Linked DNA regions of Homo sapiens: all the other regions are linked to region 2. The links come from fine-mapping of genetic effects on gene expression. A gene starts in region 2. Each other region holds a variant in brackets. All regions are shown on one strand. Distances are from middle to middle.

What was found. PIP is the estimated chance that this variant, and not a neighbour inherited with it, causes the effect. A credible set is the group of variants that fine-mapping cannot tell apart.
Region 1: its variant is the best candidate, but not a certain one, in a credible set for the expression of SLC66A3 in whole blood (TOPMed, PIP 0.53).
Region 3: its variant is the best candidate, but not a certain one, in a credible set for the expression of SLC66A3 in whole blood (INTERVAL, PIP 0.86).

What each region holds. Positions count from the first base shown.
Region 1 is chr2:11,119,586-11,129,936 of GRCh38, reverse strand. FLJ33534 (Putative uncharacterized protein FLJ33534) reads left to right here. Exons shown (of 9, transcript NR_040080.1): 2 at 839-953; 3 at 1,051-1,216; 4 at 5,152-5,354; 5 at 6,648-6,785; 6 at 8,975-9,174. Among named protein-coding and RNA genes, the nearest start is that of FLJ33534, 7.4 kb to the left of the region's middle. RefSeq lists a silencer at 1-105 and an enhancer at 1-155. The variant A/T (reference allele first, on the strand shown) is at 6,107.
Region 2 is chr2:11,150,236-11,160,103 of GRCh38, reverse strand. It overlaps SLC66A3 (solute carrier family 66 member 3), which reads right to left and starts at 4,637. Exons shown (of 7, transcript NM_152391.5): 1 at 4,415-4,637. The coding sequence starts at 4,557. It overlaps CIMIP5 (ciliary microtubule inner protein 5), which reads right to left. Exons shown (of 3, transcript NM_001371321.1): 3 at 8,787-9,868. RefSeq lists silencers at 1,312-1,560, 4,221-4,460, 4,571-5,050 and an enhancer at 7,306-7,806.
Region 3 is chr2:11,358,955-11,369,305 of GRCh38, reverse strand. PPIAP60 (peptidylprolyl isomerase A pseudogene 60) reads right to left here. Exons shown (of 4, transcript XM_047446546.1): 3 at 4,017-4,160. Among named protein-coding and RNA genes, the nearest start is that of PPIAP60, 13 kb to the right of the region's middle. The variant G/T (reference allele first, on the strand shown) is at 6,136.

The DNA.
Region 1 (10,351 bases), 30 kb after region 2:
AGCTTGGGAGCGCGAGGGAAGGAGCTGAAGGGGCGGGTCCGTGGGAGGCGAAGGCAGGGGAAATGTGTGTCTGCATTTTTTAATTTGCAGGGGATATTTTCCGTCCCCTTTGTCCCGTAAGCCTCTGCTTTTTGGATGAAAACGTTGGCTTTACCACCCTCTCTCTCCTTCCCGCACGCGCACACCTTGAAGGCATCCTACCAGGCGGTGACCGCAGAGGAAGCACCCAGAGCCACAGTTCTTGCCTTGTCAGCTGCTCCCACCACGTCCCCAGAAAGCTCCGGGTTCGTCAGAACAGCAACATTAAAGGAAGGCCCAATTTATCTATGGAAAAATCCGCTCCGGCCTTCCTCTTGTAGCCCCAACCGTTTTCACTTCTAAGTAGCCGCTTTGGGTCTTACTTGTTGGTTGTACAGTTGCTGTCAATGTGCCTACCATTTTGTACCCAGCTTAAAATTGTTTATTTATTTATTTATTTATTTAGAGGCAGAGTCTCGTTCTATCACCCAGGCTGGAGTGCAGCGGGGCGATCTCTGTTCATTACAACCTCCGCCTCCCGGGTTCAAGCGATTCTCCTGTCTCAGCCTCCTGAGTAGCTGGGATTATAGAGGTGTGCCACCGTGCTCGACTAATATTTGTATTTTTAATAGAGACTGGGTTTCGCCATGTTGGCCAGGCTTGTCCTGAACTCCTGACTCAAGTGATCTGCCTGCCTTGGCCTCCCAAAGTGCTGGGATTACAGGCGTGAGCCACCATGCCTGGCCAAATTTTTTTTTTTAATGTATCAGCAATATTTTTTCATGTTTCTCTTTATATATATATATATTTTTTGACACAGGGTCTTACTTTGTCGCCCAGGCTGGAGTACAGTGGCATGATCGTAGCTCATTGCAGCCTCCACCTCCCTGGGCTCAGGAGATCCATCTCAGCCTCCTGAGTAGCTGGGACCACAGGTGCTTTATAATCTTTACACATCTCATTGTAGCCAGTTTCTTAGAGTTGATGCATGATAATGTGTTTAACCAATTTTTTCTCTTCTTGGGCATTTAGGTTTTGTTCAGGTTTAGCACAAGCTGTGATGAATATCTTCAAGCCTCTGCTTCCTGCTGTGGAATTGTTGCCAAAGGACACATTCCCAGATGGGATTACTGAGTCAGAGGAAGTGGACATTGAGTGGCTCTCAACAGACAGGCTGTGTTGCTCTCACAGTGCCCAGGTACCACCAGCAATGTATACACATACAGGAAGCGCCGGCTTCCCTGTTGTCTTGTTGCTGTGGCGTGTTGGGGTCTCTAAGACCACCCTGGGTTTGTTGATTGGCTAGGAGAACTCGCAGAACTCAGCATACAGTGATACTCGAGGCTATGATGTATTACGACAACTGGAAATGAAGCAAATTCAGCAAAGGAAAAAGGCACATGGGTCAAGTCCAGAGGAAATGGAGTGTGAGGGTCCAAGACCCTCTCACATGCTGGACGCGCCCACTTCCCCCAGAAGTGTGTTGGGACAACACGTGTGGAATGTCATTTGTCAGGGACACTCACTAGAGATTTGGCACCGAGGGTTTTACTGCAGGCTAGTCACAAAGGCCCCCTCTGCCTAGCATGTACCAAAATTCTGGACTCCCAGTACGAAGACATAAACCACAGTGTTTACACAGTTTAGGGGCAGTGAGCCATTCATATCAGGGAAGGGCGGGAACCCTCCCCAAATCCAATTTCCCAGATACGAACCAAGGGCCAACCTTGCAAGCAGTCCTTGCTAAAGATAACATTGCTATAATTTGTATTTCTTTCATTTTTCTTTTGAGAGTAAATCATTTCGATATAAAATAATGAGATGGGACCTGGCCATCCGAAGGTTCATTCACTCTCAAGGCTGGAGGTTGATGCCAGCTGTCGGCTGTGACCTCAGGTGGGTCTGGCGGCCAGCTGCGGCCCCTCCATGTGGCTTGGGCTTCTCTCCAGTGTGAAGTGGCTGTGTTTCAAGGATGAGGAACTGACAAAGAGGGAACCAGGTGGAAGCAGTGTCACCTTTTCTATCCTAACCACAGAAGCCACCCTGTGCCACTTCTACCACATTGTTTATTAGAAACAAGTATGAATACTGGCCCATATTCAAAGGGAGGAGAATTAAACTCCACTTTTGATGGGAGGAGGATCAAATAATTTATAGAGGTTATTTAAAACCATCACAAACATATTAGATTTGCCATGTTTAGGCATTTATTCTGCAAAAAAACATACAAATGTGCAAAGTTACTTGAGGCTATTTTCTGCAGTGTTATTTGTGTTAGTTAAAAAAAAAAAGGAAACAATCTAAATGTCCATCAAGGGTCAGGTGCAGTGGCTCACGCCTGTGATCCCAGCACTTTGGGAGGCCGAGGCGGGTGGATTATCTGAGGTCAGGAGTTCGAGACCAACCTGGCCAACATGGTGAAACCCCATCTCTATTAAAAGTACAAAAAATTAGCCGGGCATGGTGGTGCATGCCTGTAGTCCCAGCTACTCGGGAGGCTGAGGCAGGAGAATTGCTTGAACTCTGGAGGTGGAGGTTACAGTGAGCTGAGATCGTGCCACTGCACTCCAGCCTGGGCAAAAGAGCAAGACTCCGTCTCAAAAAAAAAAAAAAAAAATTCCATCAATAGAAGACTGGTTATGTTACTTGTGGTATCTTTACTATACTTATTACTTGTAAAGATGTCATCTATATAATGTTAAGCAAAACAAACATGATAAAACAACAATAACAAAACGTGTTGCAAAGTGGTATATGCAGTCTGATTCTGGTGTTGTTATTATAATATGAGTTGAATGCATGAGAAAAGTCTGAACGGACGTGCTTCCTCCCGTGTCTACTGCATATCTTTAGGGAGTAGACCGGAATGCAGTGGCATGATCTTGGCTCCCTGCAGCCTCCAACTCCAGGGTTCAGCAATCCTCCCACCTCAGCCTCCCAAGTAGCTGGGACTACAGGCATGCGCCACCATGCCTGGGTAGTTTTTGTGTTTTCTTGTAGAGACAGGGTCTCACTGTGTTGCCCAGGCTGATCTCAAACTCTTGGGCTCAAGCAATCTGCCCACCTTGACTTCCCAGAGTGCTAGGATTATAGGTGTGAGCCACTGCACCTGGTCAATCATGTTAACGCCTAAGATATGATTGTCAGGGGTAGTGCAGAGAGCACAGAATTGAGAATCCAGAGAACTGGGTTCTTGTCTAGGCTCTGACCCTACCTTCCTGGGCTTTTTTTTTTTTTTTGAGACAGGCTCTCCCTCTATCGTCCAGGCTGGAGTGCAGTGGCACCATCACGACTGACTGCAGCCTCCTGCGCCCCGTGATCTTCCCACCTCAGTGCCCTGAGTAACTGGGACCACAGGTGTGTACCACCGCACCCAGCTAATTTTGTTTATTCTTCTGTAGCAATGGACTCTCGCTATGTTACCCAGGTTGGTCTCAAACTCCTGGGCTCAAGCGATCCACCCTGCTTGGCCACCCAAAGTACTGGGATTACAGGCGTGAGCCACCATGCCCGGCCTGGGCCCATTGGTAAGGATTATTCAACAGTAAAGATAGTAAATCTATGACAGTCTCTCTTGGATTATGTATTAGTTTGCCAGAGCTGCCCTAACACAATGCCATGAACTGGGTGGCTAAACAAGAGAAATGGAGCGTGTCACAGTGCTGGAGGTCAGAGGTCTGAGAAGAGGGGTCGGTGGGGTTCATTCCTTCTGAGACAGTGAGGGAGAATCTGTGCCAGGCCCCTTACCCCACTTTTGGGACCTTCCTGGCAATCTTCCATGTTCCTTGGTGTGCAGAAGCATCACCCTAATCTCTGCCTTCATCTTCACATGGTGTTGTTTCTTTGTGTGTCTCTGTCTAAATTTCTCCTGTTTTATGAGGGCACATTCATACTGGATCTCAGCCCACCCTACTCCAGTATGACCTCATCCGAACTCATCACATCGGCAATGACCCTGGTTCCAAATAAGGTCACATTCTGGGGTGCTGGGGATTAGCACTTCAATGCAAATTTTGAGAAGCACAATTCAACCAATCACAGATTATACAGATTTGAATTCCTTCTGGGATCTATTAAGGGATAAAACCGACCTTGTATGGCCAGGCACAGTGGCTCGCACCTGTAATTCCTGCCAGCCCTTTGGGAGGCTGAGGTGGGTAGATCACCTGAGGTCGGGAGTTTGAGACCAGCCTGGCCAACATGGCAAAACCACATCTCTACTAAAAATACAAAAATTAGCTGGGTGTGGGTAGGCACGAGCCTGTGATCCCATCTACTTGGGAGGCTGAGGCAGGAGAATCACTTGAAACCTCGAGGTGGAGGTTGAAGTGAGCTGAGATCATGCCAGTGCACTCCAGCCTGAGTGACAGAGCGAGACTCCATCTTAAAAAAAAGAACCAACCTTGTATTCAGCCCCCACTGTACGTCAGGCATTATTTCCAGTCCTCACCTCACCTCATTCGGTGAACAGTATTAGCTCCATTTTATGGATGAGAAAACAAAGTCTTCAAGAGGCTGAGTGTCTTGTCCAGGGACCCAGGCAATAAGTGGCAGGCCTTGCATGGAATTCACTCATACAACTTCTAAAGTCTGTGCTTTATTGGAACTGCAGAGCTGTGGTTTGACTAATACTTGACTACGCCTAAGGATTTTTCCCCAGGAACTTCCTTGATAATTTTCATTAAATAGACCTTATATTTTCAATCCACTCGAGCCTCTGGGAGACAAGTGAGAAATTCCCTGATGGATAATGGCATTAAAAACAGCAACTGTGTACACTGCTTGAAAAGTGTGCTTTCTTGCATTTCTCTTGTGAAGTGTTGTGACGGCCTTGTGAAGTGGAGCCGATCACATGTGGATTTAGGGGCAGAAACTGGAAGACCACAACCCACCTAGACCGCACAGGCAAGAAATGGACCCCCAGGACCAGAATCCCTTCTGACTATAGTTTCTGGCCTCTTCTTCAGTTGTTATTTGCAGAGAAAAAGCATCTCACATAAACAGTTTTACTTCGGTTATCAAAAAGATACTCAATGATCTATATTTCAAAGACTCTAGATTCCTGGGAGTTGGGGGAATTTTAAGCATTGGGAACATATTCTGGAGCATGTCTTTATGTTCTTTATTCTGTAGCTTCCCATGGGTGGCCAGCCGAATGCATTATGGGAGAAAGCAGGTCTCGTGGATAATATTTCTGAAGATCGGAGCAGGTTGCCAGGTCCACGTCGGCCATGACTGCAGCACGCTCCGGAGGCAGCAGGGGGCACCCTGGAGCTTCGCATCCTCCTTCAGGCCCGCGGCATCTCCCCTGGCTCCACCATCCCCAGGTGTCTCAGGTTGGACGCACGGTAGTTCGCTATGGCCATTTCTGATTAAAGACAGAACAAATGGATTGTCCGGATACGGTGTCTGTGAAAGGAACCCAGCTGTGAGCCTCGGCAGGCAGGTGCGACATTCTAAATCCACAGGGAGGGCCCAGAAGGGACGCAAGAGGTCACCTGCCGTGCAGGGTGCGGGGGGTCTTGGAGGTGGGCAGCAGCTGTTCACCCGTGAGCGACGAGGAGCATCAGCGCTTGAACAGCGGAAGCAGCATTTACAGGTGAACACCAGCCCGAGAGGGCCGGGGGGCCCAAAGCTATGGTGTCCAGAGCCTCCCAGCTCCCACTCTGGCCTCCAGTGGCCATGGAATTGCTAACTATGAGGGCGCAAGCTTCTCCCAGCAAGTCAAGGGGATGCTATGTGCTGCGATAACGGGTCCGGCCGCCTTGCCTTTGGCCTTCCAAGCCCCTCTCTGAGCCCCAGGACGTACCCACACCTGCCGGCCCATGTAGGGTGGTCCCAGCCTGCGTCAGTCAGGCCACACTCCGGAGCCAGGCTTGGTGCAAACTCCCAGCTGAGCTCACCCGCTGGCTGCGGTCTGTGATACTTCCCTGGTGGTCTCTGACGGGGCTGTATGGCCTCCCTCTGGAACCCAGGCTGAACACTCGAGGAGCTGGAGGCAGTCGGGCAGAATCAGCCTCTGGTTGCCAGCATGGGGTGTCAGGCAGGGGCAATCCAGCGGGGAGCCTGGGGAGAGAGGGCGGGGGTG[A/T]GGCACTGATCTCAGGCTGTGGGGAGGAATTCACACCTGCATGGCTGAGGCTGGTGCTGCCCCCCTGATCACCAGGAGATCAGCCTCTCCTTCCCCAGCCTCAATTTGCACCCCTGGCCTGTGCGGTTGGCACTGTCTCCCGTGGGGAGCCCCTGCCTGGCTCAGGGGAGACCCTGGTGCAGAGCCCACCTTTGGAGCTGCCCTGTCCTGCTGAGGCAGGAGCCACCCCTGGCCTGGCCCTGGCCCTGGCCCTGGCCCTCCGGTGAGGCTGCAGTAGCCAGGAGAAGGCCAGTCAGAAAGGCCATCTGCCTGGCGGGTGTTTCTAGCCAGCAGGCCAGGGTAAGGAAGTTGTCAGGCGTCCTGCGGGGATGGCCAGGGTTGCAGACAGGGGTGGCAGCCAGCTCCATGTAGCTCTGGGACCCAGGTGTGTGGCAGGGCCAGGAGCATGTTCTGCTGCTCTTCCAGGCCCGACTCCAGCTCATTTCCTTGAGAGACCCTTTCACCTATTCCAACCTGCATTTGCCTGTGTCGTCCTTTGCAGCAGCAGCCTTGTGGCTGTGCCTCTTCTGTGCCCTCCGAGTTCTAGGCTGAGGGTGAGGATTGGATGAGTTGATCCACGCAAGGCTCCTGGCACAGTGCCTGGCATATGGTTAAATAGACTTGAAGTTATAATTACCAGGTATGTGACCCTGTCCTCAATATGAGTGCCACAGTGGGCTGGAGAGTGGCAGCCCTGCTGGGCAGGATCGTAGGGTCTCAGTGACAGGCCTTCCTCGTATCCCTGACAGGGAGAGAGGCTCACTGAATAGTAAGTTGGCTGTGTCTTTTCTGTCTGAGCCTCTCTGGGAAGCTTCCAAGGGGATAAAGGCTTGAGCTGGAACTTGGAGGAGTTTGCAGGTGGCTGGATTGGGGTGGGGGTGGGGAGGAGGGTGCCAGCATGCCAGGTGGGGGAACAGCATGGGCGAAGGTATGGAGATGGGGGAGGGATCTGGACAGGGTGCCTGTGGCTGGAGCACAGGGCATGTGTGGGCGGGAAGCAGGTGAAGAGAGGAAGAGCTCTGGGGGACTTCTGGAGGGGACCCACCGTAGGAGCAGGCCAATGGCTGGCAGGGCTAAGTGGTGCAGGTGCCCCTGATGGATTTGATCGAGGTGGGCACACATGCTCATGTCAGAGGCATGTAAACCAGAGCAACTCCATCTTGCGTAGGAGCTGGGTAAAATGAGGCTGAGACCTACCGGGCTGCATTCCTGGACAGTTAAGGCATTCTAAGTCATGGGACAAGACGACACAGGTCATAACGACCTTGCTGATGAAACAGGTTGCAGTAAAGAAGCTGGTCAAAACCCACAAAAACCAAGACAGCCATGAGAGTGACCTCCGGTCGTCCTCGCTGCTACACTCCCACCAGGGCCATGACAGTTTACAAATGCCACAGCAATGTCAGGAAGTTAGCCTATATGGTCTAAAAAGGGCAGGCATGAATAATCCACCCCTTGTTTAGCAGATCATCAAGAAATAACCATAAAAATGTGCAGCCAGCAGCCCTCGGGGCTGCTCTGCCTATGGAGTAGCCATTCTTTATTCCTTTACTTTCTTAATAAACTTGCTTTCACTTTACAGACTCACCCTGAATTCTTTCTGGGGTGAGATCCAAGAACCCTCTCTTGGGTTGTGGATCGGGACCCCTTTCCTGTAACATATATAGCTCTGTACACCTTGAGGGTCTTAGAGGGAGGGTGGAGAGAGCCCAGGGCTGAGGGCGCCCCTTCTGTCAGGGGTGAGGCTGATGCCTGGAGCCTCAGTCTCTGCCCCACCCACCAAGGCGGAAGGCTGTCCCCTAAAGAGGAGCGATAACCCAGGGTCCTAAAGGAGCAGCGGGGCTCCTTAGTGTGGTGGGAGGTGGAGGTTGGTTGGGGTCAGGGTGGGAAGTGGGTGCCTGGCCAGGTGAGCGTCCCCAGATCTGTGGGACTGGCTTCTGCAGACCTCTGTCCCCGCTCCTGCTTCATCACCCTGACCTGCCCCTGTGCTGAGAGAGGACAGATGAGAGGGTGGGGCCAGAGGCTCTGCAAACTGTGAAGTGCTGTGCTCACCCCCCTTGAGGTTGTTCATTCTCAGTTCAGCTGTGCTTCTTCCCGGGGAGAAAGTCTTCGGAAGCTCAGGGAAAAGGCAGATCAGGAATGCGGAAGTGCCTGGGGAGGGAGCCACTCAGAGGATTACTGTCCACATGGTGAAAGCAACCCACACAGTGGTCCCCCGAGAGCAATCAAGGCCGGGGGAAGGGGTGCTACAGGCCCCTGAGACTGAGGAAGGGGAGGAGATATGGTGAAAGGGGACAGGAAGGGACTTTTGGGGGTTGCAGGCATCTCATTTGTTTGTTAAGCCATTTCCCCATCACACCAGCCCATAAGGTAGGTCATATTTCCATTATACCTGTTGGAAAAGGGAGGCTCAGAGAAGGTGAGTAACCTGCCAGGGTCACACAGCAGAGCTGGCATTTGAACTCAGGGCTCTGACTCATGGGTCCTGGGAAATCCCTCCATGGCAACAGAAAAGATCACAGAGAGGCTGGGGCCAAAGACAGATTCTGCCTAGCTCCCAGGTGGCCTGTGGCCAGCTCTGCAATGATTTCTTCTAAGGCTGTTAGTCTTTAAAGAATGGCAAAGCCCAGGAGTGAGTTCGTCTGCTACTGCGAAGTGAGTTGTTTCTGAGACGCACTTCTGGGAGGTAGTGACATTGCTGTCACAGAAGGGACTGAGCAGAAACTGCTGCTACAAATACGTCTTGTTTGAGAGTGAGCTGGGGCTGGGTGAGCTCGGAGGCCCTTCAGCTCTGGGGTTCCTTCATTCCAAGTCTCTTTCCTTTCACAGGCCTGTTTCCTCCTCATGAGAGGTGGAGCGGTGGTTCCCAAACACGATGTGGGAAGTGTGTTAAAATGCAGATCCTGGGCTCGACCCTGAAGCTCTTCCGGCATCCACCTTCCCAGGTGACCAGACTCTGGGGAAGGCATCACCTCAAGACTCCTGCACCCTTCCTCCAGAGTCCTGGGATTCAGCTAAATCCTGGGAAGGTAGGACGGGCCTGCGCCTCCCGCCTTCCTTTGCTGTAGGGTTGGTCCTGTCTCTGCTCCCTCAACCCCTAGTTCCTGTCCATTTCTCTTGAGACAGCTTGTCTGTCTCGGGTCCTCTAAACCTACTCTCAGGCCCTCACTTCCTGTCACCTGGGCAGCAGAGCATGTTTTCTTCAATAGCACCCTCCCTAAGAGACTCTTCAAATCATTTATTTGTCATGATGCATGATAGTTAAATGAAATAACAGAGGCAATGAAGCACCTGCTCAGAGGCTGGCACCTGGTGCACTTTTGACAAGTGACACTTTCATCTTGACAGTTGGGAGGAGCTTGCATGGATGAGTGGGGACGTGGGTGTGCTGGGTGGCACCAGGGCACACACAGCTTGACATATGGACACTGTCTGGCAGCAGGTTAGATTAGAGGTGGACGGGGTACGGATGTGTGGACAATTAAACTAGGACTCAGGGACGCTCTGCCCCAGGACTGGGCAGGCAAGAGCTCTGGGAAGTCAGTGGGCAGACAAAGGGTGTGGTTGGGTGGGCAGGGCTTCCTGGGGGAGGTGATGGTGTTGACCTGACCAGGGACCCATGCCCTTTCACCACTTTGTTGTTCTTTTTTTTTTTGAGATGGAGTTTCGCTCTGTTGCCCAGGCTGGAGTGCAATGGCACCATCTTGGCTCACTGCAACCTCTGCCTCCCAGGTTCAAGTGATTCTCCTGCCTCAGCCTTCTGAGTAGCTGGGATTATAGGCAAGTGCCACCACGCCTGGCTAATTTTTGTATTTTTAGTAGAGACAGGGTTTCACCATGTTGGTCAGGCTGGTCTTGAACTCCTGACCTCAAATGATCCTGCCGCCTTGGCCTCCCAAATGTTGGGATTACAGGCATGAGCCACTACGCCCAGCCTCTTTTCTTTTCCTTTTTTTTTGAGACAGGGCCTCAAGCTTTGTCACCCAGGCTGGAGTGCAGTGGTGTGAACATGGCTCACTGCAGCCTCAACCTCTGGGATCAAGTGATCCTCCCACCTCAGCCTCCCGAGTAGCTGGGATTATAGGTGTGCACCACCATGCCCAGTTACTCTTTTTGATTTTTGTAGGGATGAGGCCTCCCTTTGTTCCCCAGGCTATTCTCAAACTCCTGGGTGCAAGTGATCTTCCCACCCTCAGCCTCCCAAAG
Region 2 (9,868 bases):
TGACCCCGGCAGCTGCCCCTCAGCTGCTGCACACATCTGCCCTCCACTCTGAGAAGCTGCAGAGGCGCAAGGATCCGAGGAGCCGCAACCATCCCTGGATGCGGGGGTCTGTGGCCGTGTTTTTAGAGTTAGAACAGCACCTGGATGGTCCAGTTGCCTTCCAGAAGAGCTGCCCGGTTGAGAGGGCAGTGGGGGAAAGCGTGAAGAACCACCCTCAATTTCGCTAAGAAGACTCCGGCTGTGAGGATGCTGCGAAGGCCACAGGGTCCCACATTCTCAGAAGAAAAGGCAGAGCTTCCTGCCTCCCCCTCACACCCAGCCATCTCCCTTCAGGACCGGAATCCCTGTGGTCTCCTGGGGCTACCTGTTTGTCTCATCACCCAGCTTTTTGGCTCCCTCCCTCTCACCTGTGTGTTCAGACCACTCAGGTCAGGAAGAAAGGGGAGCCGGAACCATGGGACTTCAACACACAGGAGGGGCCCCCCAGGGTCTCCAATCTCCTAAGCTGGGAAGGAATCCTGGAAAAGTCCGATTCACAAACAGGCTGTGCCTCCCTGGCCTGTTTCTGACAGTGCACAACTTAGCTGGGGGCGGAGTCAGAGGAGGTCACAGTGTTGCCCTGAGCACGAGGGCCTCCCACAGGCCTGGTCCCCGAGTGCGGGCCCCCACCGTGCCCAGCAGGGTCCCCACCCCCAGCTGCCTGCAGGCCCTCCGGGTGCTGTGCAGCTGAGCCACCTCCCAGCTTCAGGGACAAGCGGTGCCTCTGCCCTGCCCTGCCGCAGGGACTCTCCTCCTGCCAGCCTCCTGAGCAGCCCCCTCTGTTCCCCTGGGAGATTGAGCCCAGGGGGGCTGGCAGAGGGGGAGGCTGCACCCCAGCCCCTCTGTGGGGCCACAGCCAGCCACTGAGTGCTGAAGAACAAAAGCTATGGGGGTCTTCACCATCGAAGTAAGTGTGTGCTGACCCCTGGGACGCAGCCACAGTCCACAGGCCAGGCCTGAGAACCTGGGGATGTCAGAGCCCGTTCTCACCTTCAGGGGTCATCCATGCTGGCCTCCACAACTTACAGACCACTTGGGGAAATGGAGGCCCATAGACACCAAGAACATACAAGATGAAGAGCCTGGATTTCCCGAGGCTGATCTGGATGCAGCCGTTGCTGCCCCTGCAGGTTTTGCCGTCTACTCCCTGCTTTCCCTGGGATTCAAACTCCCCCCATCCCTGCAGCCTGGGGAGGTGGGGTGGGGACAGTGTCTTTCCTTTAGTTTTTAATGTTTCTTTTTTTTTGAGATGGAGTCTTGCTCTGTCGCCCAGGCTGGAGTGCAGTGGCGCGATCTCAGTCACTGCAACCTCCACCTCCCGGGTTCCAGCGGTTCTCCTGCTCAGCCTCCCGAGTAGCTGAGACTACATGTGTGCCACTACACCTGGCTAATTTCTTTTTTTTGAGGCGGAGTCTTGCTCTGTCACCCAGGCTGGAGTGCAGTGGCACGATCTCGGCTCACTGCAAGCTCCGCCTCCCGGGTTCACGCCATTCTCCTGCCTCAGACTCCCAAGTAGCTGGGACTACAGGCGCCAGCCACCACGCCCAGCTAATTTTTTGTATCTTTAGTAGAGACAGGGTTTCACCGTGTTAGCCAGGATGGTCTTGATCTCCTGACCTCGTGATCCGCCGGCCTGGGCCTCCCAAAGTGCTGGGATTACAGGTGTGAGCCACTGCACCCAGCCTACACTGGTTAATTTTTGTGTTTTTAGTAGAGATGGGGTTTCACCATGTTGGCAAGGCTGGTCTTGAACTCCTGACCTCAGGTTATCTGCCCGCCTCGGCCTCCCAAAGGGCTGGGATTACAGGCATGAGCCACCATGCCTGTCCCTTTAAAGTTTCTTTTAATAAGTAATCGCTATAGTGCTTATCATAATAAAATCATGCCAGCCGGGCATCTGACACAGCCCCATTTGTTTCCATTCCCATCTGCTCCATGCAGCCATTGGAGTTTTCTCCCTCAACACCTACTAGAGGGTTAAACAAAACGTACCCCCACCCAGGCTGGGGGACAAGTGACCTGGAGCAAGGGGTGGGCTCCAAAGGCATCCTACCCAGAGGCCAAGGCTCTACAGCCTAAGGGTCCACCGTGGGAGGGCCGCAGTCCATGGAAGGCTGCAGGCAGGGCAGGTTGGATGAATCTTGTGCTCCAGGAGGCTCCTGGCTGCAGAGAGCAGGGAGGCAGAGCCCAGCAGAGCCCTGGAGGCAGGAGAAGCAGCAAGGTTGGGAACTTGCGAGGGGGAAGGCTCCAGCTACAAGGAATGCCCCTGGGTGGCAGAGGCAGGTCCCTGGGCAGAGGCTCCTGCCCTTCACACCAAGCCACACTAAAAAGGCTTTTCTGGCATTATTAAGACACACTTCATGCTCCAATTGACTCAGTGCTCTCAAAACCAGGCTCTTAGTTTGCTCAAATGGAGACCCAAAGAGGGCCCGTGCCCTCCAGGTGGCTGACTGCGACAGCCCTGGGGTTCCTTCTGCTCTAACTCCGGCTGCTGCCTGATCTGGTCAGGGGCCCGGGGGCCCAGCTGGCAAGCATGGCCAGCCCCAGGTGGGCCTCCCAGGCAAGGCTGGGAAGGGCATGAGGGAGGCAGGCAGGGAGACAGGAGGGCCAGGAGGATGGGTCCTGACACAGCCAAGCCCATTTTACAGAAGTCTGTGTGCCTGGCCCTGGCCCTGGCTTGGAGGCTGCAGAGCTGGTGCACCAGCCCCGACAGAGCCCCCTTTACCTGCACGTGATCAACTGCAAGACCCTTAGACAGGCCAGCAGGGATGGCAGCAAGCTGCTGCCCCACCCAACCCTTGAGCTCCCATGCCCAGGAAGATCCTTCCACTGCCAGAGGTCTAGCTTTCACTAAGGTGAGCTGGGAGAGGTGACAGCTGGCAGATCTAATAGGAGCCCTCACCTGCGTATCTCTGAGGGTTTGCATTTTTCAAGCAATGCTGCAAAAGTGGTGGAAATGCAGGCCTAGGGGCTGGCGGCAGGAGGGAATCTATAGACTCTACAGACAGCCTGGCTTCTTTTCCTTCATGGGTCCAGCTTCAGCTTCCCCAGCTCAGGGACCTAGCAAGGGGCCGAGGCCAAATCCCACTCCTGGCTTTCATGCCCTTGTCCCCTCTCCCACCTGAACAGTCACCACAGCCACTTCCAGCCTGTGTCCTTTGCCACAACCTCATCGCTCCAGCCTCTCTGCTCCCAGCCTGGTGGTGGCACCAACCTGAAACGCATGCTGCCCACCTCCCCTGGGTGCCTCTCAACCCTGCCATCCAGCCTGGGACCCCCCCCTCCCCACCCCGCAGGGTAGAGTCACTCACAAGCCTGGAAGAGGTCACAGTCCCTCCCACTGCAAGCCTTTCCCAAAAATTTCCCCTCAAAGCCCCCTATTGGATGACTGTGCCCAGGGCCGGGCTCCATAGGGCCGGCGCGGGGTCCAAAGCCTGAGTGGGACCCCTCACCCTCCCACACCTGAGGTCTCCTCTTTCTCCCCCGCACCCCTTGGCTTCTTCCCATCCTGTATGCCGCACCCCCCACCCCGCCCACCAGGAAGGCTTGTGTGGAGGACCAGGCTTCAGACCCCACTGGGTGATGGCGGGGGGCAAAGGGGAAGGCCTGGCCTGGCCAGGGGGAAGGGGCGAGACCACTAGGTTGAGGTATGTGTTTTCCTATTGTTGGGGCTCAAAAATGATACCCCAAAAGTTTGGCGCTCTGGCATGATGAATACTTTGAATAGGAAAGCCTTAGAAGCTGCCTCAGAATCAAGGATTTAACGACCTTTCCGTCACCCCTTCCCAACTGCAGAGACTCTCCAACTTCCTTACAGATGACTAAGGAAACTTCTTTCTACAAGAAATGCAATTGTCTTAAGACCCTCTCCCAAGGAATCTCATTAAATAACCAGGAAAGATTCCCCACCAATCACCGGGAGAAGAGAAGAGATTCATACATTCTTAGTTCAACCCCTTATTTCACAGGTGAGGAAACCGAGGCCCGAGAACGAGGTTGACGGTGCGTGGTGAGTTTAGGGACAATGAATATGACAGCCTCGAGGTGCAAATGGCCTTGCTCAGGGCCAGCAGGTTTTGTCACTAGCGCACCAAGGGCTGCCTCCGCTGGGTCTGTTTTCTCATCTGTAAAATGGGCGTGCGCAATCAATTCGTGCCACGCGGGGCTTGGTGAGAAACAATGTACGCGGGTGGCGGGTGGCCGTGGGAAGAGCACCCCGAGCCCCTAGGCTCCCTAGTTCACCCTCGGCCGCCCAGCTGCGACGCCGGCGCGCGGGGATCATCCCCGCCCTACTTCGAGCCGAGGCTCTCCTGGGCTCCCAGCCGGCAGCAGCTGCGAGGGGGCAGGAGGCAGCCCCGGCCGCCCCGGGCCTTACCCTGCCAGCTCCAGAAGTAAACTCGGAAGGCTGAGGCCCCGCGCGCTGCGCGCCGCTAGCACAGCGGAGATCTGCGGCAGCTTCAGCGCGGCGCACACGCCCAGCGTGCTCCAGTTACACAGCCCCAGCAGCGCCGCCTCCATAGCGCCACGGGCGCGGGCACCTGGGCGGCCGCAGCGAGAAGGGACCGCTCAGCCTCGGCGGCGCAGCTCTGCCGAAGCCTTCCGCCTTCCCGGGATCCGCCCGGGACCACCCGGCCAGGGCCCGCCCCTCCGCGCGCCGCCAGGCCCCGGACCCGCCTCGCTCCGCCCCTCCCCTGGACGCACCCCGCCCCCGGGCCCGCCCCGCCCCTCCCGCCCGGGCCCGCCCCGCCCCGCCCCTCCCGCCCGGGCCCGCCCCGCCCCCTGGCCAGCCTCATCTCGCCTCGCCTACGGGCCCGCCCGGGCTCGCTCAGTCCTCGGACTACCCTCATCTCGCCCCGCCCCCAGATTCGCCCCCTCCCGGTCGGCCTCACCTAGCCCAATCCCGTGGCCAACCTCGCCTCGCCCCGCCCCTCCTCGCCCCGCCCCTCCCCTCCTAGCCCCGCCCCGGGCGACAGTCCCACCCTGGCCTGCGGGCTCCACCAGCAGCTGCTTCGCATTTCCGCGTTCTTGCCACCCGATAGTTTAGCCGCCGCCGGGAGCCGCCCTGGAAGTCCGGCTTTTCCACGGGTTGGGTGGACCGAGAGGCAAATGGCCCCGGGGGATGGGCCATTCTGCCGGGATTTTTCCCTCCCTGCAAGTGTTTTAGTTTCTCTCACTAAGCATTTCAGGAGTTAAAGCCTCCTGCTTAAGGGCTGAGTGCACCCTCCCGACTTACAGGTGGGGAACCAGGCTGGAGAGACTTTCTGGGACCAGAGCCCCAGGGTCGCCTCATTTGTGCCCTTTCAGAGCACGCGGCCTGTCTCCAGCCTGGGACTGAAGGCTTCCCTCCTAGCGGCGTGGGCCCTGAGGGGCCACCGGAAGCCTTGAACTTGAGCACTTCACAGTGAAACTGTTTCTTAAGGATTTCTCCTGATAAAGTAACTTGGACGTGGCCGTCTAAGCCACAAACTGAGGGAAAGGGAAGGACGCATTTTCCAACCTCTGAAAATCGCCTGTGTATTAGGGCCTGGTTATGAAGCAGGCAAAAAAGCACCAAAATGCAATGCCAGAATCCACGATCCCTGGTTTTGTGCCATAAATCTCAGCCGGGAAGTGTGAGGGACGGGAGCTGGGTCAGCTTCGGAGTTCGGAATTCTGGCCGAGGCTCTTTCTCTCCAGCCTCACCGGCCCATCACCTCCGCCTATGGAAAAAAAAAAACAGGTGCTGAGTCCTGCCTCCCAAGTCTAAATGAGAAAAGGATGTTCAGAAGGGAACCCTTAAAGGAAACGGCTTGGACCTGCCCTGGCTAGATCGATACTGATCGTTATTGACCCCGCGAAGCGGGAAGATTGCTTGAGGCCAGGAGTTCAAGACCAGCCTGAGCAACATAGGGAAACCCCCGCCTCTACTAAAAATACAAAAATTAGCCGAGCGTGGTGGCGCGTGCCTGTGGTCCCAGCTACTCGGGAGGCTGAGACAGGAGGATGGCTTGAACCCAGGAGGCGGAGGTTGCAGTGAGTCGAGATCGCGCCACTTCACTCTAGCCTGGGAGACAGAGCCAGACCCTGTCTCAAAAATAAATAAATAATATGTATATAAATTTTTTGAAGAAGAAAATAGAGAAGAGCTTTTTTTTTTTTTTGAGACGGAGTTTCACTCTTGTCGCCCAGGCTGGAGTGCAGTGGCACGATCTCTGCTCACTGCGACCTCCACCTCCGGGGTTCAAGTGATTCTCCTGCCTCTGCCTCCCAAGTAGCTGGAATTACAGGCATGTGCCACCACTCCCGGCTAATTTTTGTATTTTTAGTACAGACGGGGTTTCGAACTCCTGACCTCAGGTGATCCACCTGCCTTGGCCTCCCAAAGTGCTGGGATTACAGGCATGAGCCACCGCGCCCAGCGTAAAGAGCTTTTTAACAAGCATCAGCAGCAATGACTATAGGAACATCTAGAACCTGTTGAGTGCCTCCTGCGTGCCAGGTGTTTTACTTTCATCATGCCATGTGATAGGTCCCTTGATGCAAGGAGGTGGTCCTGGTTGGAAGTGCCTGGTTCCTGCCACATGGCAGTGGAATCCCCCTCCCTCCTCTTCCCCTTCTGCCCCAGCCTTTATTCCAGGGGTTGGCCAGGATCTGGGCCCCCAGGACTAGCCTTAGGAGGGAACTGCTCCCACCTGGGGTCAGCCTGCGCTAGCACTTGGGGATGCAGGCAGCATGAGGGGCCTTTGAGAGGTATGAGTGCCCCCAGGACCACGCAGGGAGTGGCCTCCTCCATTGTGGAACAAATGCTGCTCCTGGCCCAGGACACTGCAGCCGCCTGCTCTGGGGGTCAGCTGGGTGAGGCAGGGCTGTGGAAGAGGTTTCTTCCTGGCTCCTAGACCCCTCCCTGGCTACTTTGCGTGAAGACCAGGATGCAGTGATGTGGGTGTGTGGCCCTTCGGGGTTAGGCAGACCTCAGCTGTCCTCCTAGCATTGGCCCCTACAGGCTGCATGATCTTGGACAGACCTTAACTTCCCTGTTCCTCAGCGTCATTTTTAAAAGGGGAGAACCATCCCGCTCAGAAGGTTATTGAGAGGCACAGAATAGGTGCTCAACGTATATGGTCATTCCCCACCAGGTGCAAACTAGCAAAACCTTTTTGGGATTTGTGGGCACTGGCTTTGCTCCTGAAGCTGTGGGGATGGGGGCGGTCCTAGGTTGGAGCCAGGTTTGGGCCATGCAGGAAGGCGTTTGGGTCTCAGCCCCCATGCCCAGCGGGACATCTCAAGAGCATGCCAGCTCTTCTGCTTGGAGGATGGCCTCAAAACAGCTGATCTGCGAGGCTCCTCTGTCCCTTCAGGAGGTTGGGGAGTGTCTGGACGGGGGTCTCTACAGTGCACACTCACTGGGATATCTCTGCAGGACAAGATAGTGCCCCCATGTTAGAGACCTCTGCCTCCTCCCCAGCTACATGGCAACCCTGGTCACAATCTGTTACAGGACCCTAACCCCACTCCTGGGCCACAGCTGCACAGAGTGAATCAGCTCCCTGACTGAAGCTGGCCAAGGAGTCTCATTGAAACCACCTTTGCAAAAATTATAACAGGAAATTATGACAATGAAAGAAATCAGACCTAACTGACCCCATCTTGCTTCTAAACTTTAAGCTGTCCTGGTTCCTTCCTGGGCATAGGCTGAACCAACCTTGGGAAGGAATTTAGTTTATGGTTTGACTCTGAAACAAAATTAGTAATAATCCTTTCCCGAAAAGACCACCTTTGTGCCTTGGGACCTGTCTGCCTTTGTAGGACTAACAAATTAGCTACAAGATTAGAAATGACAGTTTAGGGTCAGGCAGCCTCTGGCTGCAAGAGTCTGAACCTTCCCAAATTGTTCCTGGGGATCACATCACTATTGTAAAACCTAAGATCAGTGCTTGAGGTATTTTGCAGCCCCTGCACTGGATGGATCAGCTGACACCACCCAGACCAATTATTTGGCTCAACCAGTTCTGCAATCCCCGCTCGGGAACAGAAGACAGCGAGAAAACTTCACTTCGACCCCCGTGTGATTCCATCTCCATCCTCACCAATCAGCACTTTCCACTTCCCAAGCCCCTACTGGCCAAATTATCTTTAAAAACTTCCATCCCCAGTCGGAGCGCGGTGGCTCACGCCTGTAATCCCAGCACTTTGGGAGGCTGAGGCGTGCAGATCACCTGAGGTCAGGAGTAAGAGACCAGCCTGGCCAACATGGCCAAACCCCGTCTCTACTAAAAACAAAAATTAGCCAGGCATGGTGATTTGTGCCTATAATCCCAGCTACTCTGGTGGCTGAGGCAGGAGAATCACTTGAATCCAGGAGGCACAGGTTGCACTGGGCCGAGATCGTGCCACTGCACTCCAGACAGAGTGGGTGACAGAGCGAGACTCCGTCTAAAACCAAACCAAACCAAACCAAAAACAAAAACACTTCCATCCCCGAATGCTCTGCTCAGGGAGACTGATTTGAGTAATAATTAAGCTCCAATCTCCCGCACAGCTGGCTCTGTGTGAATTGCTCTTTCCCCTGTCTTGATAAATGGGGTCTGTCTAGGCAGCGGGCAAGGTGAGCCCTTTAGGTGGTTACACCTTCACGTGGGAACATGGAATTGAGCAGAAACTGATTCCATGCCTCCCCCACCCTCACCCCCTGACTCTCTTCAACAGAGGAGATCTGAACTCGAGAGCCATTGGTGGTGGCAGTAAACCCAAAATATCTGAGACAGGTCTCAAGCAATTTAAAAGTTTATTTTGCCAACAGGTCCTGACGACACGTCCCCAAGGTGGCTGGGGTACAGCTTGCTTTTGTGCATTTTAGGGAGACCTGAGACATCAATTAATATATGTAAGATATACTTTGGTTCCATCCAGTAACACAGGACAACTCGAAGAGGGGGGCTTCCAGGTCATAGGTAGATAAGAGACAAAAGCTTGCATTCTTTTGAGTCCTTGATCAGCCTTTCAGTGAATTCACAATCTAGTCTGGCTCAGTGAATCTTCATTTTTACATACACAGTAGGTCTGAGGAAGCAATCAGATAAGCATTTCTCTCAGGTGAGCAGAGGAATGATTTTCTGTCCTGCACCTGTTAAGATCAGCTATCAGTTTACATTGCCAGGATGAATTCAACAGAAATGTTTCAGGGTAAAGTTTTGTTTTTTGTTTTTTTTTTTAATTCTTGGCATGATCCTGAGTAGGGTAAAGATCTTGAGGCCCACAAGGAATTTCCTTGTGGGCAAATTGTGAGGGAGGCATGTAGCTGTTTTATCTTTATAGCCATCTTATTCAGGAATTAAAATGGGAGGCAGGTTCCCAGCTTGACTTTTCCCTTAGCTTAGTGATTTTGGAGTTGAGATTTATTTTTCTTTCACAGTGGCCATTCCCCCACCTTCATTAAAAAAAAAAATTCCTAAACCACCGGGCACGGTGGCTCACACCTGTAATCCCAGCACTTTGGGAGGCTGAGGCTGGCAGATCACCTGAGGTCAAGAGTTCAAGACCAGCCTGGCCAATGTGGTGAAACCCTGTCTCTACAAAAATACAAAAATTAGCCGGGCATGGTGGCAGGTGCATGTCATCCCAGCTACTCGGGAGGCTGAGGCAGGAGAATTGCTTGAACCTGGGAAGCGGAGGCTGCAGTGAGCCAAGATGGCACCACTGCACTCCAGCCTGGGTGATAGAGCGAGACTCCATCTCAAAAAAAAAAGAAAAAAAATCCTAAACACAAATTTTTCGTTAAGCCACTTGCAAGTTTGTTATATACATCATGGGACTTTTCAGCAAACACCTCCTAAGAACAAGGGCTTTCGGC
Region 3 (10,351 bases), 210 kb before region 2:
ATATAAGTCCTGGCCTTGCCCAGAGTAGCTGCTCCATAGATAAGGACCAAACTTTTGAACCTCTTTAAGACAAGGTAGATTGGATGTAGGACAAGCTAGGAAACAAAGTTGGCATGTGAGCATCAATCAGCTTTTCCTTCTTCAGGTCTGAAATGAGTTCTGTCTAAGCCTCCACCTTGAAAACTGAGCCCTTGACCCCATCACTGTAACTTCCAATTTCCCTTTCAAGAGGACAACCCGATGCTGGGAGATAAATAGGGTTTTAGAACTGGAGTTGGATCAAAACAGGAAAATCAGGCTGGGCACAGTGGCTCACGACTGTAATCCCAACAATTTGGGAGGCTGAGGCAGAAGGACCACTTCTGGCCAGGAGTTCAAGACCAGTCTGTGCTACATAGCGAGATTCCCCTCATCTCTACAAAAAAATTTTAAAAATAGTCAAGGGCAGTGGTGCCTATAGTTCCAGCTACTGGAGAGGCTGAGGCAGGAGGATTGTCTGAGCCTGGGCAATCAAGGCTGCAGTGAGCCATGATCTTGCCATTGCACTCCAGCCTGGGTGATAGAGTGATCCCATCTCAAAAAAATAAAAATAAAAACGATTAAAATAAAATGAAAAAATCTGACTGATGAGGGTCAAACTAGGAAAACAATTCTGTCCAAGAGGTTATTATGGGGCCAAAAATGGGCCTAAAAGCCAGAAAACAAGAAGTTAGGCATTCACTGAAATGCAAACCAGACAGAAAGCAAGAGAGCAGAAAGAGCTGGACAATTGCTGAGAAACAGCCCGGGACTCTGACGCTTGCCTCCACCCGTGTGGACAGCGTGCCAGTTTGACGGCTCAGAATCGGAAGGGCACCCACATGGGCCTCCCCAGCTTCCTTTGGCTCAAAGGTGTCCAGACAAAAAGCGAACAAGGCAGTAGGAAAATGGAAGCTCCAATTTCCCTTCTCATTAAAACTGTGGGTATGCCTTTTCTCACACAGAATTTCCCTCACATTCTGGGCTCTCGGCTGTGTCCAGGAGTCCAGGACTGGCTTTCAGCCAATGCACAAGCTTCCATTTCAGTCCGGAGTTAGAAATCTGTCATGCTTTGACGTTTTGGTCAAATGGCTCATGTCCAGAATCCACCAAATGTGCATTTTGCAAAACTGCCCTCTCTTCACAAGCTGCAGCCTCAATTCTCATTGTGAGTAGCTGAATATAACAAGGAGAACCTTCAGACTAGAAATTGCCTGATTTCTCCTGCAAACTTCTGCCCTGAGAAGGCAGATGTGGGGCTGCAGACACAGGCACTTATTCATTCATCTCATTGAAAAGCTACGAGTTGGTTCCTTATTGCCTCTCCATAATAGAAAAACTCTTTAATGAGCTCTCTTTTTGTTTTTCAAATCAGATATGCAAAGAAGCTCATAACAATTTTTTTTAAAAATGCGAAACAAGAATCTCCAATTATGGGAGCAAAATCTTCAGCTTCTGGGTTCCTGTCTCACTGAGGAAATGGATTTGAAATGGCAAGGAGGAAATGAGGAGGCAAACTTTCATGTCTATTTTAGTTTTCCAATGCAGTCCTATTTCCTTTGGACTTTGTATAAACAAGGAAAGGACAGTTGTTAGTTCAGTTATTACAGATAACCTGTGTCTTTAAAGTAAATGTATCTTAAATAAGTAGGACTCCCATAAATGACTACACTTTTTCAAAATATGACTCCCCAGCTTATAACAAGAATAATAGCAAACATCACTTTATTAAGCAATTACTATGTAAAAGACACTTAGTGCTTAGCACACACTGGAAATATTGTTGACTGGCTATATTTTCCCCAGAAATCCCATTTCTGAAAGCCTATTACAAAGAAATAAAATCATCAGTATAACAAAGGAGTGTGTGTGTGTGGGTGTGAGTGTGGGGGGGGGTGTGAGTGTGTGTGGGTGTGAGTGTGTGTGTGAGTGTGAGTGTGTGTATGTAAGTGCACACACATGTTGTAGTATTGTTCATAGTGGCAAAAACTAGAAACAAAGTGAATATTGATAACATGGGCACAGATGACAAATTATATCTCCAAATTATGAAACAGAATCCAGCCATTAAAATCAGAGCTTTGCCACGTGACTAGGATGAAGTTACAAAAAGTATTGTTGAGTGAGAAAAGCAGGATACATAGGATACATGGAATTGAGTATAATATGATTTCTTTTTTTTTTTTTTTTTGAGATGGAGTCTCGCTCTGTCACTGAGGCTGGAGTGCAGTGGCACAATCTCAGCTCACTGCAACCTCCGCCTCCCGGATTCAAGCAATTCTCCTCCCTCAGCCTCCTGAGTAGCTGGGACTACCGTCACCTGCCACCACGCCCCAGCTAATTTTTGTATTTTTAGTAGAGATGGGCTTTCACCATATTGGTCAGGCTGATCTCAAAATCCTGACCTCAGGTGATCCACCTGCCTCAGCCTCCCAAAGTGCTGGGATTACAGTTGTGAGCCACTGCACCTGGCCGATTTCTTTTTTAAAATGATCAAAAAACCATTTATATGTGGGAATATAGCTATATACTTTTATTATTGAATTACCATGGAAAAAAACATGGAAGAGGGAGGCCAAGGCAGGAGGATCACTTGAGGCCCAGGAGTTTGAGACCAGCCTGGGCAACAAAGCGAGACCCTCATCTCTACAAACAATTAAAAAATTAGCTGGGCTTCGTGGTTCACGCCTGTAGTTCCAGCTACTCAGGAAGTTGAGGTGGGAAGATCACCTGGGCTTGGATAGATCAAGGCTGCAGTGAGCCGTGATTGCGCCACTGTACTCTAGCCAGGGTGACAGAGAGACTCTGTCTAAAAAAAAAAAAAAAGGAAAAAAAAAAAAACTTGGAAGGTGCATTCAAGGTTGTCAACATGGTTGTGTGGGTTGTGTCATGGGCCCAGGTTCAGCCTGGAGCCATGACATGAGTGGAACAGACTAGAAGGGGAGGGAGGGGAAAATAAAGAGAAAGGGAAAATGGAATCTGTTTTAAGGAAACCCACCAGGGTATACAATATAATCACACGATGTGTATATATGCAATTATGTCAGTTATGAGGAATGAAAATAAAAATGGCATTGATTTTTTTCTCAATAACCTTGTGAAATATTATTTTTCCCACTTAATAGATAAGGAAATGGATGATCTGATTTGCCAAAGGCTATCTGATTCCAAGGCTTAAATTATTTTCCTATAAGTATGATGCACAGTTATAATGAAAAAAAATCAAATATCATAGTAAAGTACAATGAAGATTGTAAAAACTCCTGAGTTCCAGAGACACTGCTATTAAAATTTGAGAAAACAACACTCCAGAAGTTTCTCTATGCATATATACCATTTACCAAATCATGCAAAATATGCCAAAGTCAGTCGGCTGTGAGGTTATGGGGGAGGTACTGCATCCCTGCAGGAAGTGGATGCTTCTATTGTCACTCATTCTGAAAAGTGGATAATCCTGGGCAGGGAATTAGGCCAGTCTGAGGGCTGAGGGAGGAGGGGGCAGGCCCAGGACCGGCCTTGGGAGGCTCAACGTGGTTCCTGTGATGGGAAGGAGCTGCCCTGACAGCTGCAGGCAGCCAGCCTCCCAAAATGTGGATGGCAAGTAAGAGGCATGGGTAATAATGGTCTCTATCCTCCTGAACAGCTCTCCCCCTGGACAGCCGTGAAAGAAATTGGGACTGATCTTTGGACAGGAGGATGGCTGTGTCCCCTCCTGAGGTCAGAGGGGGACACTGCTTCCAGACAGGGCCTGCAGCTGAGCTTACAGCCTCTCCCGACATGGCCACGTGATGATTTGGTCATGCCTTCTGATGAATGGCTATCTGCTTATGTGCCTAGATCCACCAGAGTTGTCACAGTTACAGGCCAGTTACTAGGAGGCCTCTTCTGAATGTGACATGGGAGGAGGGTCTCCCCTTTTCTCTTGGGGAGACACTGAGGTGAAATAGGCCTGCACCAGCCAATACAGAGGCAGCAAGTAGAGTCCTGAAGACACTCACTTGGCTGCAAAAGAGACCAGGGGTTTCCTCCAGCTGCCTGGTTGGCTGCTGCTCTGAGAAGATACCAGGCCTCTGCTCCGGTGGCTTCAGGGAGGCCACCCTGGACACAGCCAGCAGAAGCAGGTCATCGATGGAGGGGTCAGCCTACAAGGACACAGCCAAGTTCATGTTCTTTGGGAGGTGGCAGCCAAGGTAAGCCTGAAGGGTCTGATTCATAGACGAATCTTCAGAAATATCTGGAGAAGTGAATCTCAGAGATATAATCCTCCCTCCAATTTGAATGGGTGGGGGCTCCTGGGCATTATGACTTGAGTATTAAGGAAGGGTGTCTTTATTTTGCACACCAAGCTGATGAGGTGAGACATGTGCATTACATGGATATAGATATGCATATCCAAAATACAAAGCTTATCATACTGCTCACCTGCTCAAAATCCAGCAACAGCTTCCCTTGGGGTGAAACCCAAACTCTTTACCATAGACCCCCACCCGGAACACTGCATGGCAGCCATGATAAAGTCTCAGTTACCTCCTCAGATCTCCAGGCCTTCACCCGTATTTCTGCTTAGAATACTTCCTACTAGAGTCACCCGGACAGTTCGTAGTCACCCTTAAAGATTCAGCTTAATGGCCGGGCGCGGTGGCTAATGCCTGTAATCCCAGCACTTTGGGAGACTGAGGCAGGCAGATCACCTGAGATTAGGAGTTTGAGACCAGCCTGGCCAACATGGTGAAACCCTGTCTCTACTAAAAATACAAAAAATAAGCCTGGTGACGTGGTGCACAACTGTAGTCCCAGCTACCTCGGGGGCTGAGGCAGGAGAATCGCTTGAACCCAGGAGGCGGAGTTTGCAGTGAGCCAAGATCGTGCCACTGCACTCTAGCCTGAGTGACAGAGCAAGGCTCTGTCCGTGCCCCCCCAACCCCACCACCACCAAAAAAAAAAGATTCAGCTTAACATGTCACCTCCCCTGGGAGGTCTTCCCTGGCCCATTCCCTCCTGGCCCAAATCCTCCAGATTTGTCTTCCTGCTTGGCGTTCCTGTAATCAAACATTTGTTACACTTTATTGGTATGTTTCGCCCAGAGATAGGGATTCTGTCCTACTTGCTTCTGTATCCCCAGTGTTTTGTATAGTTAGTATTTGTTAATCTGTTGAACGACTGAATGGTGTAGGTACATAGTTTTACACAAAGGGAACATGCTCTGTAGTCTTTTGCATTCAACAATGCAGTAAGTCTGTGCCCTTAACCATTACACGTCCCCATGAAAGGGTTTTAACTATGGCCTACAAGCATTTTACAATCCAGTCCTCATCAGCTCCATCCTTTCTGCTTTCTGTGCCTTGAATATTCATGCATTTTCATCTACAGTGCCTAGCACACAGCCAATGCACCTGCCAAAGTGAAATACCCCAGGGTGTGCCCACATTCTTTCCCTACATTATTCCATGCCTGTTTCCCACCCCTGCCTGGCTAATTCCCACCTCTCCTCTGATGTCCCACTGAAACGTTTTCTCCGTGCAAAGCCCCATCTGTTTCTCCTAGACAAAGTGAGCAAGCCTGCCTCTGTGGGCCCCTGAACCTTGCTCCTCTCTCCTCACGGCTCCTAGTGTGTACACCCGCGGTGGCTCACGCCTGTAATCCCAGCACTTTGGGGGGCCGAGGTGGGCGGATCACGAGGTCAGGAGATCGAGACCATCCTGGCCAACACGGTGAAACCCCGTCTCTACTAAAAATACAAAAAAATTAGCCTGGTGTGGTGGCATGCGCCTGCAGTCCCAGCTACTCGGGAGGCTGAGGCAGGAGAACGGCATGAACCCGGGAGGCGGAGCTTGCAGTGAGTCGAGATTGCGCCACTGTACTCCAGCCTGGGCAACAGAGCGAAACTCCGCCTCAAAAAAAAAAAAAAAAAAAAAAAAATCTGCTCTCTGACTCAACTTTGATCACTGATAGTACTGGGACTTTTGTCTTCTTCCGTTTGTTATTCCCAACATCTAGTACAGCCTCTGCCACCAACTGATATTCAATAAATATTTATTGAATGAATGAATGAGGGCATGAATTAAGAAAGTTTAGTTTCACGCTTAGAGAAACATCACGCCAGGCTTCAGGGCCAAC[G/T]GGAATCCATCCCAATTCCTGCTACAGACTTACTGATCCTGTCAGTTGTAATCAGTCAGAGAAATCATCCCAGCATGCTGGAACTAGGTAGAAACCTTGTTTTGCACATGATGAAACTGAGGTCGTAAATGTGAAGGTTGCACAGCAAATTCCATCAGAAGTTGTCTGAGATAGCAAGACTGATACCCATGCATATCAAGAGTCATGAATCACCAAGATCTCATCCCTAATTCTAGTGCTGTGTCATACATTATTTTACTTTTCAACAAAATAATGATGATTCCTTAAAATTGTGTAGCACTTTATAACTTACAAAGTCCTGTAAAAAAAAAAAAAAGACCTCTGAACTAGCTATTTGTGGTTAAGTCACTTGCCAGAATCATTCAGTTCTTAAATGATGGATCCAGGGCTAGGACTCAAGTTTTTGCTCTATGCCCAGTGTACTCCTCAAGATCCAATGTCTGCCTCCAACATTACAATAAACGGTGGTTAAATAATGATTCTAGGCTCACTCCTGGGAAAACATTATCATTTCTAATCAATATAATCATTTCCTATTTCTAAGAATTTTCTGAAGGCGACATAGACCAGACTTGTCAAACTTTTACATAAGAGAGCTGATAAGATCGAAGCATGGCTATAAGAAGGAACCAGAGTGTCAGGTCTGTGTGTGTGTCTGTGTGTGTGCACGTGCATGTGTGCATGGATGTGTAGTGTGTCAGTGACTCTGCATGTGGAATACTTGGTAAAGGCTTTAGGAACTCAAAAGTGTGGGTGGAAACAAAATAAGCAAATCTCCAATGCACAGCATCTGCATAGAGTGTGACCTTGATAAATACTTGCCAATGAATTAATATGCCCTGTGTTAAAAAATTCTCATATAATTGTTGTGCCCTTAGCCAGTATTTCCATAGAATGACTTTTAACAATGTAAATATGTCTTCCAAATAACTAAATTTATTCACTCATGCTTTCATCCAACAACGAACGCCTGGCCAGGTGCGGTGGCTCACACCTGTAATCCCAGCACTCTGGAAGGCCAAGGCGGGTGGATCACCTGAGGTCAGGAGTTTGAGACCAGCCTGCCCAACGTGGTGAAACCCCGACTCTACTAAAAATACAAAAATCAGCCAGGCAGAGTGGCAAGCACCTGTAATCCTAGCTACTTGGGAGGCTGAGGCACAAGAATCACTTGAACCCGGGAGGTGGAGGTTGCAGTGAGCCAAGGACGCGCCACTGCACTCCAGCCTGGGTGACAGAGTGAGACTTTCTCTCAAAAAAATAATAATAATAGTAATAGCCAGGCGCCGTGACTCACGCCTGTAATCCCAGCACTTTGGGAGGCTGAGGAGGGCAGATCACAAGGTCAGGAGATCAAGACCATCCTGGCTAACGCGGTGAAACCCCGTCTCTACTAAAAATACAAAACATTAGCGGGGCGTGGTGGTGGGAGACTGTAGTCCCAGCTACTTGGGAGGCTGAGGCAGGAGAATGGTGTGAACCTGGGAGGCGGAACTTGCAGTGAGCCGAGATCGCGCCACTGCACTCCAGCCTGGGCGGCAGAGCAAGACTCCATCTCAAAAATAAATAAATAAATCATCATCATAATAATAATGGAGGCCTATAGGTGCCAGACGCACAGTTTCCCCATAACACAGCAGGAAACTAAACAGACAGACCAACGTCTACTCTCATGGAGTTTACATTTTTGGGGGATGCTAGACATGGATAATAACCACTCGGTTATATATTATATTAGGTGATAAGTGGTATAAAAAAATATGGTTAGGCCAGGTGCGGTGGCTCACGCCTGTAATCCCAGCACTTTGGGAGGCTGAGGTGGGTGGATCACGAGGTCAAGAGATCGAGACCAGCCTGGCTAAAATGGTGAAACCCCGTCTCTACTAAAAAAATACAAAAAAAAAAAAAAAATAGCCAGGCGTGGTGGCGGGTGCCTGTGGTCCCATCTACTTGGGAGGCTGAGGCAGGAGAATGGCGTGAACCCGGGAGACGGAGCTTGCAGTGAGCCGGGATCATGCCACTGTAATCCAGCCTGGGTGACAGAGCGAGACTCCATCTCAAAAAAAAAAAAAGAAAAAGAAAAGAAAAAAGAAAAATATGGTAAGAAAAGGGGCTTGGGCGTGGGGTGGCTAGGAGTGGGGTGGGGTTGCAATTTGAATCAAGGGGTTCAGGAAGTGACATTTGAACAAAGACCTGTAGGTCGGGTGCGGTGGCTCACGCCGGTAATCCCAGCACTCTGGGAGGCCAAGGCAGGTGGATCACTTGAGGTCAGGAGTTCAAGACCAGCCTGGCCAACATGGCGAAACCCTGTCTCTACTGAAAATAGAAAAATTAGCTAGACATGGTGGCACACAACTGTAGTCCCAGCTACTGGGGAGGCTGAGGCAGAAGAATCACTTGAACCCAGGAGGCAGAGGTTGCAGTGAGCTGAGATCATGCCACTGCACTCCAGCCTGGGTGACAGAACGAGACTCCATCACAAAAACACACAAAAAATGAACAAAGACCTGAGAAGAAGGGGCACAAACTGTGAGAATATCTTGGGGAAAATCTTAACCTTTTGAACAAACACATAATTTTTAAAACTTTGTTTTTGTTTTTAAATAGCTTATATACACTTGGCTGCCCTGCCCCCCTTTTTTTTTTCCTTGAGACAGGGTCTTGCTCTGTCACCCAGGCTCCAGGCTGAAGTGCAGTGGTGTGATCACGGCTCACTGCAACCTCTGCCTCCCAGGCTCAGGTGATCCTCCCACCTCAGCCTCTTGAGTAGCTGAGACCATAAGCACGTACTACCATGCCGAGCTAATTTTTGTATTTTTTGTAGAGAGAGGGTTTCACCATGTTGTCAAGGCTGGTCTCAAAGTCCTAGGCTCAAGTGATCCACCTGCCACAGCCTCCCGAAGTACTGGGATTACAGGCATGAGCCACTGCACCCAGCCTACACGTGGCTGCCTTCTGAGAGGATCTAGCAGGTAGTTTAACATGTTCCTGATAATTCGGGCATCTCTGTGATTGTCAATGCTGGGCACCATGTAGTGCTGTCCATGGAGGTGGAGATGGTGGAAGCTCGGAGGACTAGAGGACTATTTGCCCCCCCGCTAGAGGGCTCCAATCTGTTTTTCTTCTGCATTAATTCTATGGCATCCACTCCTCTCACACCCTATTATTTCTGGTAGTGTCCCAGCATCACTACGCCATGCGTTTTGTCTGCTTTTTCGTAATACATCATTGGTTTGTTAGGATTGGGTCTAGAAGATAAAGACTTGAGCAAAAGGCTAAAATGCAGTGCACAGGCTTTATGACATCTGCTCTGCCTCTCTGCCTATTCACATAGGACATTTTTTGCTTATTTCCTTACTCTCAATTTCCTTTCTGACTGTCTGAATGCCAAATAATTAAATCCCTGATTTGGGAACTGTTGCTAATTAATACCTCATTGTCCTTCCTTTTAGGGCTCAGAACCATTTTCTTTTTTATTTCAACAGATTTTCTTCATAGGAAGCAAGTTAATGTGCAGGTTTCCACAGAGCAGTGGAGACAGACTCAGGATAAAGCAGTGCATGAGGAGAAAGTTCCCAGGACAGGATCCAAGAAGCTCTCAGTGAGGGGAGGGGACCTGAAAGCACAGAGAACAGAAACTGTCTTTATTTATTTTTTAGCCAGTATGCCGTTTGCCTATAACCTAATAGTGGCACAGAGGAGGCCAATAATTCATAGCTATTTTATGCACATCAGGGAAAGGAGAATGAAAATACTCTAATAAAAGTCCATGGGAAGTGCAATGGGAGCACAGAGTAATGAGTAATAGACTCTTACATGGAATTTGGGATGGGCTCACAGCAGAGGTGGCATTTAAGTAAACCTTTAAAAGATAAGTACGTTTTCATAAGTAAAGAAAGGAGGGAGGCCATGTGCGGTGGCTCACACCTGTAGTTCCAGCACTTTGGGAGGCCGAGGCAGGTGGATTACAAGGTCAGGAGATGGAGACCATCCTGGACAACATGGCGAAACCCTGTCTCTACTAAAAATACAAAAATTAGCTGGGCGTGGTGGCGGGCACCTATAATCCCAGCTACTCGGGAGGCTGAGGCAGGAGAATTGCTTGAACCCAGGAGGCAGAGATTGCAGTGAGCCAAGATTGTGCCATTGCACTCCAGCCTGATGACAGAGTGAAACTCCATCTCAAAAAAAAAAA